Regions from separate parts of the Homo sapiens genome. Here region 2 is linked to region 1. A link means that fine-mapping ties the variant in region 1 to the expression of a gene that starts in the linked region. Tissue or cell type: whole blood. Region 1 holds a variant in brackets; the other region holds the start of a gene. All regions are shown on one strand. Distances are between the middles of the regions.

What was found. PIP is the estimated chance that this variant, and not a neighbour inherited with it, causes the effect.
Region 2: it holds the start of NQO2, and the variant in region 1 is fine-mapped to the expression of NQO2 in whole blood (TOPMed, PIP above 0.99).

What each region holds. Positions count from the first base shown.
Region 1 is chr6:3,054,553-3,062,639 of GRCh38, forward strand. LOC124901242 (a long non-coding RNA gene) reads left to right here and starts at 536. Exons shown (of 2, transcript XR_007059409.1): 1 at 536-1,472; 2 at 1,947-2,805. RefSeq lists an enhancer at 1-775. The variant T/G (reference allele first, on the strand shown) is at 3,210.
Region 2 is chr6:2,996,780-3,004,885 of GRCh38, forward strand. NQO2 (N-ribosyldihydronicotinamide:quinone dehydrogenase 2) reads left to right here and starts at 3,115. Exons shown (of 7, transcript NM_000904.6): 1 at 3,115-3,306. NQO2-AS1 (NQO2 antisense RNA 1) reads right to left here and starts at 2,896. Exons shown (of 2, transcript NR_186367.1): 1 at 2,612-2,896. RefSeq lists a silencer at 2,864-3,113.

The DNA of each region.
Region 1 (8,087 bases):
AGGCGGCGGGTGTGTGGCTATAAAAACGCAACCCGGGGGGTGCCTGTGAAGGAAATCTGCGTCCCGCAGAACGCAACACGCCGTTGGGATACTGGACCGTCCTTTGTGAGATGCCACCATTGGGGGAAACCGGATATGCATGGCTCCAAGGAAAAAGTTCGATTAAAGGAAAGTGGTTTAAGGACAAGGAAATGGCTAGAAAATGGAAAGTCTTGGAAACAGAGCCAGTTGGGGGTTGGGAGGGCGGTGGGGGGAAAAGCAAGATAGATCAGATTGTTACTGTGTCTGTGTAGAAAGAAGTAGACATAGGAGACTCCATTTTGTGCTGTACTAAGAAAAATTCTTCTGCCTTGAGATTCTGTTAATCTATGACGTTACCCCCAACCCCGTGCTCTCTGAAACATGTGCGTGTCAAACTCAGGGTTAAATGGATTAAGGGCGGTGCAAGATGTGCTTTGTTAAACAAATGCTTGAAGGCAGCATGCTCCTTAAGAGTCATCACCACTCCCTCATCTCAAGTACCCAGGGACGCAAACACTGTGGAAGGCCGCAGGGTCCTCTGCCTAGGAAAGCCAGGTATTGTCCAAGGTTTCTCCCCAGTGTTAAGTCTTACACCTGCCCACTCAAGAGGCAGGAGTTAATCCCAGAGGTCTGTGTCCTAATGCATTATGGCAAATGGATGTCACGCATGTCCCTTCATTTGGAAGATTGTCATATGTTCATGTAACAGTTGATACTTATTCACATTTCATATGGGCAGCTTGCCAGACAGGAGAAAGTACTTCCCATGTTAAAAAACGTTTATTGTCTTGTTTTGCTGTCATGGGAGTTCCAGAAAAAATCAAAACTGACAATGGACCAGGATATTGTAGTAAAGCTTTCCAAAGATTCTTAAATCGGTGGAAAATTTCACATACAACAGGAATTCCCTATAATTCCCAAGGACAGGCCATAGTCCTTGGGTGCATGGCTCCAAAGAAAAAGTTCGATTAAAGGAAAGTGGTTTAAGGACAAGGAAATGGCTAGAAAATGGAAAGTCTTGGAAACAGAGCCAGTTGGGGGTTGGGAGGGCGGTGCTGGTGAACAGTTTAGGCCGATTGTCTTTTTTTCTAGTGTTTGCTGGCTTCTGCCCCCTCATTTGGCAGTCACCTGCCACTGTGACCTCCCCAAGACCCCTCTCCAAACTCTATACCTTGATTTCTGGTGTCCCGGAAATAGAGACCAGAAACACTGATGTCCCACTCCAACGATAGAGCAGAAGGAAGGAAGGTTTCCCCTGTGGTTTAGAACGTTCCTAACGAAAATAACTGCAACTCTTGATTGCACCTCCTGAGGGTCGTTGGGACTTTCCCTCTCAGACATTTATTGGTTCATTCATTCGTTCATTTTGCTGTAACTCACAGTGGCCCCCATCCTAAGGTGCACTGCTGGGATTGGTCTATGTGCTGATGATGTTCTCCTTGTCTTCAGAGGTGAGAATGTGCCCTCCCTCCGAGATGCCCTCTTGCCCCTGAGCTCCCCAGCAGGGAACAGGCTGCCTTGTCTTGTGAGTCCAGATCCTGGGAACAACTTTCATTTAGGAATGGAACAGCAGGTCCTGGGAGCATTGGCGCCTGCGCGCCCATCATGCGCGTGTGTGATGCAACATCACCACCTTGTGGCAGCGAGGAGCTATCACAACGTGGACTGAGCAAGTTGCTCCCTGCTTGGGGTTGGGAGCTGGACTGGCCTAGTTCCCTGGGTCTTTTTTTGTTGTTTTTGTTTTTGTTTTTGTTTTTGAGACAGAGTCTCGCTCTGGCCCAGGCTGGAGTGCAGTGGCGCGATCTCGGCTCACTGCAAGCTCCGCCTCCCGGGTTCACGCCATTCTCCTGCCTCAGCCTCCCGAGTAGCTGGGACTACAGGCGCCCGCCACCACGCCGGGCTAAATTTTTTTTTTTTTTTTTTAGTAGAGACGGAGTTTCACCGTGTTAGCCAGGATGGTCTCGATCTCCTGACCTCGTGATCCGCCTCGTGATCCTCCTGATCCTCGAAGCCGCCCGCCTCGGCCTCCCAAAGTGCTGGGATTACAGGCGGGAGCCACCGCGCCTGGCCGTTCCCTGGGTCTTTTGAGTGGTGTGAGTTGAATGGTGGTAGATTCTAGGACAGTTCAGTAGGAGCCCGTCCTCAAAAGGAAAATAACAGAACTTCCTGCTAATCTGGTATTGGGGCTGAGCAATTACTGCACACTGATGAGATTGACCATAATTGCATCCTGAGTTTGAAGAGGAGGTCACGCTACTAAGACGAGATAAAATCAGCTCCAACGACAAACATCATCTCTGGGGGTTTCCAGATTCTCAATTTTCATTTAATCCCCAGCCTTAGTGGAAAGCAAGAGTCGGAGTCGGCATTCTGGGCAGGGAGGCAGGTGAGGCAGGTACACATCTCCTCTTCTCCCCAACGCCCCATGTTTCTATTTCTGAATAAAATGAACCATCATGGTGCTAAGGTAAAGCTAAACTAGCTGAGCCACCTCCTGAAGAGGACATTGCTTTTTTTTATTTGATGAGATTTCTTTCCCTTCTGTTACCAGCATCTCCATCCCTTTGGGAAACTGACTCTTAATAACAGAGTTTTTTGTACTTTTAAACTTTGTTTTTGTGTAGTCAAATATGTACAACATAAGATATGCTGTTTTATCCATTTTTAAGTGGACAGTTCAGAAGCATTAATTACATCGACTATGTTGTGCAACCTTTCCTGCTATTTATTTCCAAAACATTTTTCAACAGAACAAATAAAAACACGGTACTCATTGTAAAATAACTTCCCATTCCCCCCTCCTTTCATTACCGGTAGCCTCTAATCTACTTTCTGTCTCTATGATTTGTCTGTCCCATGTACTTCGTATAAGTGGAATCCTACAAAATGGGCCTTTACAGTCAGCTTATTTCCCTTGAAAACCTTGTTGGCAAGTTTCATCAATGTTGTAATATGAGTCAGAATTTCACTTCTTTGTGGCCGAATATTAAAAATGCACGGGTCGTTTGAGATTTGTGAATAATGCACCAATGATTCTTGGCATATATGTATCTGTGTGACTCCCTGCGCTTAATACTGTGGGTATCTACCGAGGAATGGAATTGTTATAACAATTCTATCGTCATCCTATGTTTAGCTTTTTGAGGAATAGCCAAAATGTATTTCGCAGTGTCTGTGCAATTTTACAT[T/G]CCCACCAACAATGTATGAGGGTTCCAATTTCTCCATATTTTCACCAGCATTTATTATGTTGCTTTTTTTCCCCTAAATTATAGCCATCCTAGCAGATGTGATGTGGTATTTCATTGGGTTTTTGATTTGCATTTCCCTAATGACTAATGACTTGAATCGTCTTTTCATGCATTTACTGGCCATTTGTATACCTTCCTTGGAGAAATGTCTATCCAAGTCCTTTGCTTATACTTTAATTGGATTGTTTGCCTATTCATTGTTGAGTTGTAGAAGTTCTTTATATTCTGAATTTATCAGCTATATGATTTGCAAAAATGTTCCTTCACTCTGTAGGTTGTCTTTCTTGATAATATCCTTTGATACACAAAATTTCAGATTTTAATGAAGATTACTCCCAGTGGATTTTGTTTCTTTTTGTTTTTTCATTGTTGTTTTGCAAGAGATTTTGCTATCATATCTAAGAGCCTATTACCAAACCCAAAATTATGAAGATTTGCTTCTATGTTTTCTCCTAAGAATTTTATGATTTTAGTTTTTATATTTAGTTCATTGCTTGTGAGGGTTTTTTTAATACGGTGTGAAGCAGGGTCTAACTTTACTCTTGCATGTGGAAATACAGTCCTTCCATATCATCTGTTGAAGACTATTCTTCCCTGAATTGAATACTGCTTGGCACCCTTGGCCATAGACATATGAGTTTATTGAGGATCCCTTGTACATGTCTTGCTGCTTTTATGATTTTCTCTTTGTCTTATACAGACATCCCTCATTTCATTGCATTTTGCTTTAGCGCAATTCAAAGATATTGTGTTTTTCACATATTGAAGGTCTGTGGCAACTGTGTCAAGCAGGATTTTGGGACCATTTTTCCAACAGCATGTGCTCATTTCTTGTCTCTGTGTTACGTTTTGGTAATTCTCACAATATTTCAGACATTGTCATTATTATTACATCTGTTACAGTGATCCGGGATGTTACTACTATAATTGTTTTGGGGTGCCACAAACTAAACCCATATACGTTGACAAACTTAATGGATAAATGTTGTGTGTGTTCTGACTGCTCCAGTGAGCAGTCATTTCCCATCTCTCTCCCTCTCCCAAATTCTTTGAGACAACACAACAATATTTAAATTAGGGTAGTGAAGAACCAACCCTATAATGACCTTTAAATCTTCAAATAAAAGGAAGAGTTGCATGCCTGTCACTTTAAATCAAAAGTGAAAGACGATTAAAGTTAGGAAGACATGTCAAAAGCCAAGATAAGCCATAAGCAAGACCTCTTGCACCAAACAAGCTGCCAAGTTGTGAATGAAAGAAAAAGTTATTGAAGGAAATTAAAAGTGCTGCTTTAGTGAACACATGAATGATAAGTAAAACAGCCTTATTGCTGACATGGGGAAAATTTAAGTGGTCTGTATAGATCAAACCAGCCACAGAACTCCCTTCAGCCAAAGCCGAATCCAGAGCAAGGCCCCAACTCTCTTCAATCCTATGCAGGATGAGAGAAGTGAGGAAATTGCAGAAGAAAAGTTGGAAGCTAGCAGAGGTTGGTTCTTGGTTCATGAGGTTTAAGGGAAGAAGGCATCTCTGTAACATAAAAGTGCAATGTGAAGCAGGAAGTGCTGATGGAGAAGCTGCACCAAGTTATCCAGAAGATCTAGCTAAGATCATTGATGAAGGTGGCTACACTAAACAGATTTTCAATGTAGATAAAACAGCCTTCTATTGGAAGAAGATGCCACCTAGGACTTCCATAGCTAGAGAGGAAAAGTCAATGCCTGGCTTCAAAGCTTCAAAGGATAGGCTGACTCTGTTGTTAGGGGCTAATGCAGTTGGTGACTTTAAGTTGAGACCAATGCTCATTTACCATACTGAAAATCTTAGGGCTTTAAGAATTATGCTAAACCTACTCTGCCTGTGCTCTCAGTGGAACCACCAAGCCTGGGTGACAGCATGTCTCTTTACAGCATAGGTTACTGAGTATTTTAAGTCCACTGTTGAGACTCACTGTTCAGAAAAAAAGATTCCTTTCAAAATATTACTGCTCATTGACAATGCACCTGATTACCCAAGAGCTCTGACGGAGACGTACAAGGAGATGAATGCTGTTTTCATGCCTGCTAACACAACGTCCATTCTACAGCCCATGGATCAAGGAGTAAATTCAACTTTCAAGTCTTATTATTTAAAAAATACACTTCCGGCCGGGCGTGGTGGCTCACGCCTGTAATTCCAGCACTTTGGGAGGCCAAGGCGGGTGGATTAACCAAGGTAGGGAGTTCGAGACCAGCCTGGCCAACATGGGGAAACCCCGTCTCTACTAAAAATACAAATATCAGCTGGGCGTGGTTGCGGGCGCCTGTCATCCCAGCTACTTGGGAGGCTGAGTAACGAGAATCGCTTGAACCCGGGAGGCGGACGTTGCAGTGAGCCGAGATCGCACCACTGCACTCCTGCCTGGGTGACAAGAGTGTGACTCCATCTCAAAATAATAATAATAATAATAATAATAATAATAATAATAATAATGATAATGATAATAATAAACACAAAATAATTTTTAAAAGGCTATTAGCTGCCAGATATAGTGATTCCTCTGGTGGATCTGGGCAAAATAAATTGATAAATTGCTAGAAAGGTTCTCACCACTCTTGATGCCATTAAGAACATTTGTGATGCGTGGAAGGAGGTCAAAATGTCAACATTAACAGGAGTTTGGAAGAAATTAATTCCAACGCTCATGGAAGACTTTAGGGAAGGAAGTAGCTGCAGATATGGTGGAAATAGAACAGAACTAGAATTAGAAATGGAACCTGAAGATGTCACAGAATTGCTGCAACCTCATGATAAAACTTTCACAGATGAGGAGTCACTTCTTATGGATGAGCAAAGGAAGTGGTTTCTGGAGATGGAATCTGCCTCTGGGGAAGATGCTGTAACCACTGTTGAAATGACAACAGGCCGGGTGTGGTGGCTCACACCTGTAATCCCAGCACTTTGGGAGGCCGAGGCCGGTGGATAACCTGAGGTCAGGAGTTCGAGACCAGCCTGGCCAACATGGTGAAACCCTGTCTCTACTAAAAATACAAAAATTAGCCAGGTGTGGTAGCACATGCCTGTAATCCCAGCTACTCGGGAAGCTGAGGCAGGAGAATTGCTTGAGCCTGGGAGACGGAGGTTGCGGTGAACTGAGATTGTGCCACTGCACTCCAGCCTGGCTGACAGAACGAGACTCTGTCTCAAAACAAACAAACAAAAACCAAAAGATTTAGGATATAACAAAGTAAGTTGATAAAGCAGTGGCAGGGTTTGAGAAGATTGACACCAATTTGAAATAAGTTCTACTGTGCATAAAATGCTATCAAATGGCGTTACATGCTACAGAGAAATCTTTCATAAAAGGAAGAATCAATTGATGAAGCCAACTGATTTTAAAAAATTGCCGGCCAGGCACGGTGGCTCACGCCTGTAATCCCAGCACTTTGGGAGGCCGAGGTGGGTGGATCACGAGGTCAGGAGATCGAGACCATCCTGGCTAACACGGTGAAACCCCATCTCTACTAAAAATACAAAAAATTAGCTGGGCGCAGTGGTGGGCGCCTGTAGTCCCAGCTACTGGGGAGGCTGAGGCAGGAGAATGGCGTGAATCCGGGAGGCGGAGCTTGCAGTGAGCTGAGATAGCGCCACTGCACTCAGGCCTGGGCGACAGAGCGAGACTCTGTCTCAAAAAAAAAAAAAAGAAATTGCCACAGCCACTCCAGCCTTCAGCAACCACCACCTTGATCAGTCAGGTTCATTAACATTGAGGCGGGCCACTCCACCAGCAAAAAGATTATGACTCACTGAAGGCTCAGATGACTATCATCATTTTTTTTAGTGATAACATGTGTTATGATTAAGGTATCTACATTTTTGAGACATAACGTGCACTTAATACACTGCAGTATAGTATATAACTATTATATGCATAGGGCTGCTAAAGCGTTGCGTGATTTGCATTATTGTGGTATTCGCTTTATTGTGGTGGTTTGGAACCTACCCCACAATATCTCTGAGGTATGCCTGTATATTGCTGGCAGGAATGTAAAATTGCACAGTAGCTTTGCAAAAACAAGTTTGGCAGTTCTTCAAAAAGTTAAATATAGAGTTATACCATATGACTCACCAATTCTACCCACTGGTATATATCCATGATAAGCTCAAGAAAACATACCTCTATACATATATTTATACATGAATGTTGATAGCAGCATTATTCATAAATATATTTATACATGAATGTTGATAGCAGCATTATTCATAATAGCCAAAGATGGAAAAAACCCAAATGTCTGTCAATTGAAAGGGTAAACAAAATAGATATATGTATACATATTATTATATTATTCAGCCATAAAAAGAAATGAAGCCTGACAAATGCTACCTTGAACCATCATGAATGAACCTTTAAAACATTATGCTAAGTAAAAGAAGCAGCCACGAAAGACCACATATTGTATGGTTCATTTTGCATGAAATCCCCGAAATAGGAAAATCCAGAGACAGAAAATAAATCTGTGGTTGCCAGGGATTGTGGGAAGGAGGAAATGGAGAATAATTGCTAATGGGTATCACAGTTCCTTTTAGGGTGATGAAAATCTTCTGGAGTTAGATAGTGGTGATAGTTGCACAGCTTCATCAATATACTAAGAACTACTGAATTGCATGCTTTAAAAGGATGAACATTATGGTATGTGAATTGTATTTTACTAAAGGTGTTATTTTATTTATATATTATTTATTTATTTATTTATTTTTATTTTTATTTTTATTTTTTGAGACGGAGTCTCGCCTGTCGCTCAGGATGGAGTGCAGTGGTGCAATCTCGGCTCATGG
Region 2 (8,106 bases), 58 kb before region 1:
TTATTCACAATAGTCAAACAACAGATGAGTGGATAAACAATGCCTGGTACCCTTCCTTCCTTCCTTCCTTCCTTCCTTCCTTCCTTCCTTCCTTCCTTCCTTCCTTCCTTCCTTTCTTTTTCTTTCTCTCTTTCTTCTTTCTTTTCTTTCTGTCAGTCTTGCTCTTGTTGCCCAGGCTTGAGTGCAATGACACAATCTCAGCTCACCGCCACCTCTGCCTCCTGGGTTCAAGTGATTCTCCTGCCTCAGCCTCCCGAGTAGCTGGGACTACAGGTGCACACCACCATGCCCAGCTAATTTTTGTGTTTTTAGTAGAGATGGGGTTTCCCCACGTTGGCCAGGCGGTATACACATTTTTCTATTATTCGGCCATAAAAAGGAATGAAGTTCTGATGCATACTACAACATGGATGAAACTCAGCAACAAGGTTTTTGAGGAAAAAAAGCTTAGTGAAAAGGCCACATCTTGTAGGATTCCACTTATATGAAATACATGCAATAGACAAATTCATGGAGACAGAAAGTAGATTAGAGGCTACCAGGAGTGGAAGGAGGGGAGAATGGGGATTTATTATCCAATGAGTGCAGTGTTTCTATTTGTTTTTGTTTTTGTTTGAGACAGGGTCTCGCTCTGTCATCCAGGCTGGAGTGCAGTGCCACGATCTCAGCTCACTGCAGCCTCCGCCTCCTGGGTTCAAGCAATTCTCCTGCCTCAGCCTCTGAGTAGCTGGGATTACAGGTGTACACCACCTGGCAAATTTTTGTAGAGATGGGGTTTCGCCATGTTGGCCAGGCTGGTCTCAAACTTTTGACCTCAGGTGATCTGCATGCCTCTGCCTCCCAAAGTGCTGGGATTACAGGCGTGATCTATGGCCCCTGACCCAAGTGTTTCTATTTGGGATGATGAAAACGTTTTGAAAATAAATAGTTGTAATGGTTGCACAGCACTCTAAAGGTAATTTATGCCACTGAATTGTACACTTAAAATGGTGAAAATAGAAAATTTCATGTTATACAGATTTTGCTACCCAAAAAACAAAACAAAAAATCCAAAACCTTTATGTTATTATGAAGAAGCAGTTTTCCAAAGGAATAGGGATGCTGGTAGCAGAAGGGAAAGAAATCTCATTAAATAAAAACAAAAGCAATGACCTCTTCAGGAGGTGGCTCAGCTAGTTTAGCTTTACCTTAGCACCATGATGGTTCATTTTATTCAGAAATAGAAACATGGGGCGTTGGGGAGAAGAGGAGATGTGTACCTGCCTCACCTGCCTCCCTGCCCAGAATGCCGACTCCGACTCTTGCTTTCCACTAAGGCTGGGGATTAAATGAAAAGTGAGAATCTGGAAACCCCCAGAGATGATGTTTGTCGTTGGAGCTGATTTTATCTCATTTTAGTAGCATGACCTCCTCCTCAAACTCAGGATGCAATTATGGTCAATCTCATTAGTGTGCAGTAATTGCTCAGCCCCAATACCAGATTAGCAGGAAGTTCTGTTATTTTCCTTTTGAGGATGGGCTCCTACTGAACTGTCCTGGAATCTACCACCATTCAGGTTACAAAAGACCCAGGGAACTAGGCCAGTCCAGCTCCCAACCCCAAGCAGGGAGCAACTTGCTCAGTCCACGTTGTGATAGCTCCTCGCTGCCACAAGGTGGTGATGTTGCATCACACACGCGCATGATGGGCGCGCAGGCGCCAATGCTCCCAGGACCTGCTGTTCCATTCCTAAATGAAAGTTGTTCCCAGGATCTGGACTCACAAGACAAGGCAGCCTATTCCCTGCTGGGGAGCTCAGGGGCAAGAGGGCATCTCGGAGGGAGGGCACATTCTCACCTCTGAAGACAAGGAGAACATCATCAGCACATAGACCAATCCCAGCAGTGCACCTTAGGATGGGGAGGGCCACTGTGAGTTACAGCAAAATGAACGAATGAATGAACCAATAAATGTCTGAGAGGGAAAGTCCCAACGACCCTCAGGAGGTACAATCAAGAGTTGCAGTTATTTTCGTTAGGAACGTTCTAAACACAGGGGAAACCTTCCTTCCTTCTGCTCTATTGTTGGAGTGGGGCCATCCCGGGACACCAGAAATCAAGGAATTGAGTTTGGAGAAGGGACTTGGGGAGGTCACAGTGGCAGGTGACTGCCAAATGAGGTGGCAGAAGCCAGCAAGCGCTGGAAAAAGTCGGCCCAAACTGTTCACCAGCACCGCCCCCCATAACTCCCCACCGGCTCTGGTTTCAAGACTTTCCGTTTTCTAGGTATTTCCTTGGCCTTAAACCATTTTCCTTTAAACGAACTTTTTCTGTGAAGCCATCCGGTTTCCCCCGATAGTGGCATCTCACAAAGGACAATCCAGTATCCCAACAGCGTGTTGCGTTCCGCGGGACGCAGATTTCCTTCACAGGCACCCCCCGGGTTGCGTTTTTATAGCCACACCCACCCGCCCCCCTATCTCCTGGGCACTGCTAATGAGTCCTGCATTTCTCTCCTTTGGTCTTTGGATAAATGAACCATCCGTGCGTGACCTTTGCGAGGGCATCTTGCATAATACCAGTACACCAGCGGCGCCGTCGGTGAGTGACCTTTGGGACTGGTTTCTCTCACCAGCGTAACTCCCCGGGAGATCCGAGCAAGCTGATGAGTGTATCAGTGGCTCATTCTTTCTGTTGCACCACGGACCCTCATTCTGTAACCGGGATACCAGCCAGAGATGGGGAGCGGGAGGCGCAGGGCAGGGGCGTCCCTCCTCTCAGCACAGCCTCCCCGCGCTGGATTTCTATCAATCCAGTTTCCACCTGCCTGGAAGTCAGCAGGGTCCTCCCCAGTCCCAGATCGCCGGGCGAGGCCCCAGATGGACCTCAGGGGCGGGGAGTGGGCGGAGCTTAGGGGCCGAGGCGAGGTGTGGGTGGGGCGGGACGCCGCTGTGGAGGCGGGGCCTGGGCGCGGACGGGCGCGGAGCGAGGCACCGCACCGCCGGGGCGGGGAGTGGGCGGGGCTCGGGGGCGGGGCGGGGTGTGGGCGGGGCTCACGGGCGGGGCGGGTGAGTGGGCGGGGCCTCGGCGTGGTAGGCGCGCTGCGTAAAGAGGCCTGCAGTCCCGCGGCGCGGGGCAGGTTCCGGGCTGCTTAGGTTGGCACCGGTCCGTGGTCCCCGGGGGCGCAGTCGCAGCGCTCCCGCCCTCCAGGCGTCAGCGAGTGCGCGGTCCAGTGCGGCCGGAACCTGGCGCAACTCCTAGAGCGGTCCTTGGGGAGACGCGGGTCCCAGTCCTGCGGCTCCTACTGGGGAGTGCGCTGGTCGGAAGGTGAGTGATCCCCTGTCGGGGACCGGGGGACTTGGGAAGGACAGTTCCCGGACTGGACGGCCAGAACGCTCTCAGGGATTTCAGCTGGCCGGCCATATGGCCCTGTGGGTCGTCGCGCCCGGGCCAGGGACCATTCTGTACATAGGATCGTGCTTGGCTCTCACGGAACGCGCCCACACGCAGGGTCCCGGTGTCGAATCGTCTGGTGGAATCTGCCCTCAACCCTATGGAGCGGGTGCTGGTATCATAGTCATATTACAAGTAGGAATCAGCGGGCCCAAGGTCAGTCTGTAAAGGGGGTACCGGGGTTTAGGCCCGTGCGCTGCCCAGCGCTGCCCTGAAGGCGCGGCTGAACCACTGGTTTGCGCTGCCTTTGTCAAGGACATTGTGGCACTGTGGAAAAAATGAAAAATCAGCTTCTCTAACCTATAATCTCTCTGGGAAAAAAAAAAATCAGCTTTTTTTTTTTTCCCCGAGACGGAGTCTCACTCTGTCGCCCAGGCTGGAGTGCAGTGGCACGATTTCGGCTCACTGCAACCTCCGCCTCCCGGGTTCAAGCAATTCTCCTGCCTCAGCCTCCCGAGTACCTGGGATTATAGGGGCGTGCCACCACGCCTGGCTAATTTTTTGTATGTTTAGTAGAGACGGGTTTCATGTTGGTCAGGCTGGTCTCAAACTCCTGACCTCGTGATCCGCCCGCCTGGGCCTCCCAAAGTGCTGGGATTGCAGGCGTGAGCCACTGCTCCCGGCCCTCTTTTTCTTTTTTCTTTTTTTTTTAGAAGAGTCTCACTCTGTTGCCCAGGCTGGAGTGCAGTGGGGCAATCTCAGCTCACTGCAACCTCTGCCTTCCAGGTTCAAGCGATTCTCCCCCCTCAGCCCCTTGAGTAGCTGGGATTACAGGCGCCTGCCACCATGCCCGGCTAATTTTTGTATTTTTAGTACAGGTGGGAGTTTCACCATATTGGCCAGGCTGGTCTTGAACTCATTCTTCTTCCTTTCTTTTTCTTTTTTTTTTTTTTTTGAGATGGAGTTTCACTCTTATTGCCCAAGCTGGAGTGCAATGGCACAATCTCAGCTCACTGCAACCTCTGCCTCCCGGGTTCAAGCTATTCTCCTGCCTCAGTCTCCCGAGTAGCTGGGATTACAGGTGCGTGCCACTACACCCAGCTAATTTTTGGTATTTTTAGTAGAAATGGAGTTTCACCATATTAGTCAGGCTGGTCTCAAACTCCTGACCTCAGGTGATCCGCCTGCCTCGGCCTCCCAGAGTGCTGGGATTAATGAACCACTGCGCCCGGCCAAAAATCAGCTTCTTTAACCTTTAATCTCTGAAAAAATAAATCAGTTTAACCTTTAATCTCCGAAGATCACAGCCAAAGAAATACATGAAAAGGAACAAGTATTAAATAATATATACTTCTAGCTGTGCTGTTTATAGTTTTGGGAAAAAAATGGAAATAACCTAAGGTCCCAGAAATAGGAAAATGGGCACAAAAGGGTATGCAGGCAATGGTTTAGCTGCCGCATGAATACACACTGAATACACTGTGAGATGTTGTCTGTTAGAATGCCCAGCACGGGGACTGTCCACATGGAAAGAGGCACAGGAAAAAAAGTGAAAACATTATAAAATAACTTCTTAAAATTAAATAATGTACACGTCAAAAATATCAGAGCCCACTTGACCTGGTATATACAGTTTAATAACCACATGGCTCTTTTTTCCTGTAGGCCTGGGTAGGTGCATAGTTTCTAAAAAGGGAGAGAACTGTCACTGCTGTGGATGGGGTGCCAAGGGAAGTGCCTGGGGTCAAGTGAACAGTGACACAACTGCAAGTCAAGAGCCTGTGTTGGAGTCTTTCCCCACTATTTCAAATAGTATAGAAAATAGAGCTGAGTCACTCAAATAGAGCTGAGTTAGTCACTCAGCTCTTGGACCTCAGATTCTTATTCTTAACCGCTAGGGGGATGGAGACAGAAGTCACAAACTCACATGCCACCAGCCATATGATGTAAACATGTAAACTGGGCCAAGGAATACAAAAGGGAGTGGTGAGCTGGGGACACTGAAGAATGGATGCCCTGTCTAGAGGAGTGAAAATGAAGCATTTCATACAAACAACATGATTTCGGGCAATCACTTTGGGAATCAGGATAAGGTGTTCCCCCAGTCTGCAGAAACACTGGCAACATTTACAAAGGTAAATCATTTCATATCACTCTATTTTCTTTTTCTTTTTTGAGACAGAGTCTTGCTCTGTTGCCCAGGCTGGAGTGCAATGGCACAATCTTGACTCACTGCAACCTCCACCTCCCAGGTTCAAGTGATTCTCCTGCCTCAGCCTCCCAAGTAGCTGGGACTACAGGCACATGCCACCATACCCGGATAATTTTTGTATTTTTTAGTAGAGATGGTGTTTTGCCACATTGACCAGGCTGGTTTCAAACTCCTGACCTCAGGTGATCCCCCCACCTCGGCCCCCCAAAATGCTGGGATTACAGGTGTGAGCCACCACAACTGGCGATCATTCCATATTACTCTCCAGCTTAAGAGGCTCCAAGGGCTTTCTGTCAGGCTTAGAATAAAATCCTCACCCCTACCCTAGGAGGGGTCAGGTCAGACCCCTCCCACCTCCCTGACTGCATCTACCACCATCCACTCTTTTTTTTTTTGAACCACAGTTCAGCCAAACAGGCTTTCTTTTTTTTCTTTTACTTTCTCTTTTTTCTTGAAACAGAGCCTAACTCTGTCACCCAGTCTGGAGTGGAGCAATCCTCTAATCTCAGCCCCCTGAGTAGCTGGGATTACAGGCATGCACCACCACACCTGGCTAATTTTTAAAAATCTTTGGTAGAGATGGGATCTCACTATGTTGCCCGGGCTGGTCTCAAATTCCTAGGCTCAAGTGATCTCCTGCCTCAGCCTCTCAAAGTGCTGGGCCTTCTGCTTCCCTGGGCTTTGCCAGGCCTCCCTATGCATTGTGATAGCCAAAGTTTGCTTTCTACAAAGTCACCTCCAGGCAGTGACTGTCCACCAGGGCACTGTAGAGCCTCCCAGCTAATGATGAAGTCACTCACTCTCCTCTCTTTTTCCTTTAAGATAATCCCTTTCCAGACCCGCCATTTTGGCTCACCCTGTAAGTTACAGCCCCACTTCTCACTGCCAAGTGTGGGTGTCACTGCTGGCTCAGGGAGCATGGATCCTGTAAACTTGCCTCATCGGGAGGCTTTGAGGAGTGACCCCCAGGAACTAGACAAGTAACTTGTTCTTCACAATCACTGCCCTCCCAAGAACATCCAGGATTTCAGCCTCAGTGCTAAGACAACCATGTCTCTCCCTGACACATGCTCGCTGCTGAGAATTCTAGGAAAAGCAGAGGGCTGTGCAGGCGCCCCTGCCCCTAGGCTAGGAGAGCTGGCAAATGCCTGGAGACCCAAAGGCCTCATCCTCAGGGCGGCCAACTCTTCTGTTTTAGTGATATACAGACTATCTTTTATTGTGATTTATAGTGCAACTTACCGGTTCAAACAATACTACCTGTATTCATAAACTTTCTTTTTCCTTTCCTTCCTCACTGCCCAGCTTTAGGTTCATTCTTGTAAGTGTTGCTGGTGTCAGAATAGGAACCTCCCTGCGCTTTGAAGGGATGAATGTGACCTCTCCCACATTCTCCGGTGCTGTGATGTACCTTAAACACAGCAAGGTACTTGGACACAAAGCCTGTGCCTGGAGCACTTTCAGACAGACAGTGCATGGCCCTCGCTACAGACTCAGTGCCATTGTAGATGTTTCTGCATGGAAAATACATAAACACAAATATCTGCAGTTGCCAATCCACCACCATCTTGCAGCCCCAAGAGAGCCCCGGGAATCCAGGTTCCTTTGGTATTTCTGCTCCCTGCCCTTGGTGCATAGCCTCCATCCCCAGGACGACAAGAAGGCTGACTGAGCCCTAACATCATCCCACAGTCCAGCTGGGAAGAGAGCCAGCGACAAAGCCAGAGGGAGCTAGCTCCCACACCTCCCAGCCCCAGCTGAGTTCGCTTCTTGAGGGTATTTCTTGGAAGCCCCGCCTGTGACTTCTGCTGACACCTCACTGGCCATCTCAACTGCAAGGCAGCCTAGGAAATGTAGTGCTTACCTGTACACGTGGATTCCTGGAATCAATTCAGGGTCTGTCCTTGGGGAACCAGAGTGGGGATATTCAGTCACTAAAGATGCAGGTTCCCAGCTGTCCAGTGAAGTCAAGCGAATGGGGAAGGATTTGAAGTCACCTTTGGGTGTTTGGAGTGATCAGAGCTGTCTGCCCTCTTGGGGAGTGACAGTGCCCCACTCTGTTAAGTCCCATGCCTGCCCCCAACTCAGCTTCAGCCACAATGATGTAGCCTCTTTTCCTTTCCATCCACAGGGCACCTGGCCTGGGTGGAGCCCACTCCTCAGCACCCACCTCACTTCTTGCAGTATTCTGCAGACCCCAGCCCTGTGCCTGTGCTCCTGGACAGCTGGAGATAAGGAGTGGGCCCTGGAAGATGCTCATTCAGGCCCTGCTCAAGATTCCAGTCCTGGTGGGGATAAGCACCACTTTTGTGTGTCTCTGTGCTTTTTGTTTTGCTGTAAAGACACACTGATAGGTTCACGTTGTCGTTTGGACACAACATGCGCGATGCGTGTCTTCACACTAAGCCCTAGTCACACTCTCTGCATTGTTTTTTTATCCCATTTTTTCCTACTGTGGTACAGAACATCTCACATAAAATTGACCATTTTAACCACTTTTTTTGTTTGTTTGTTTTTTGTGT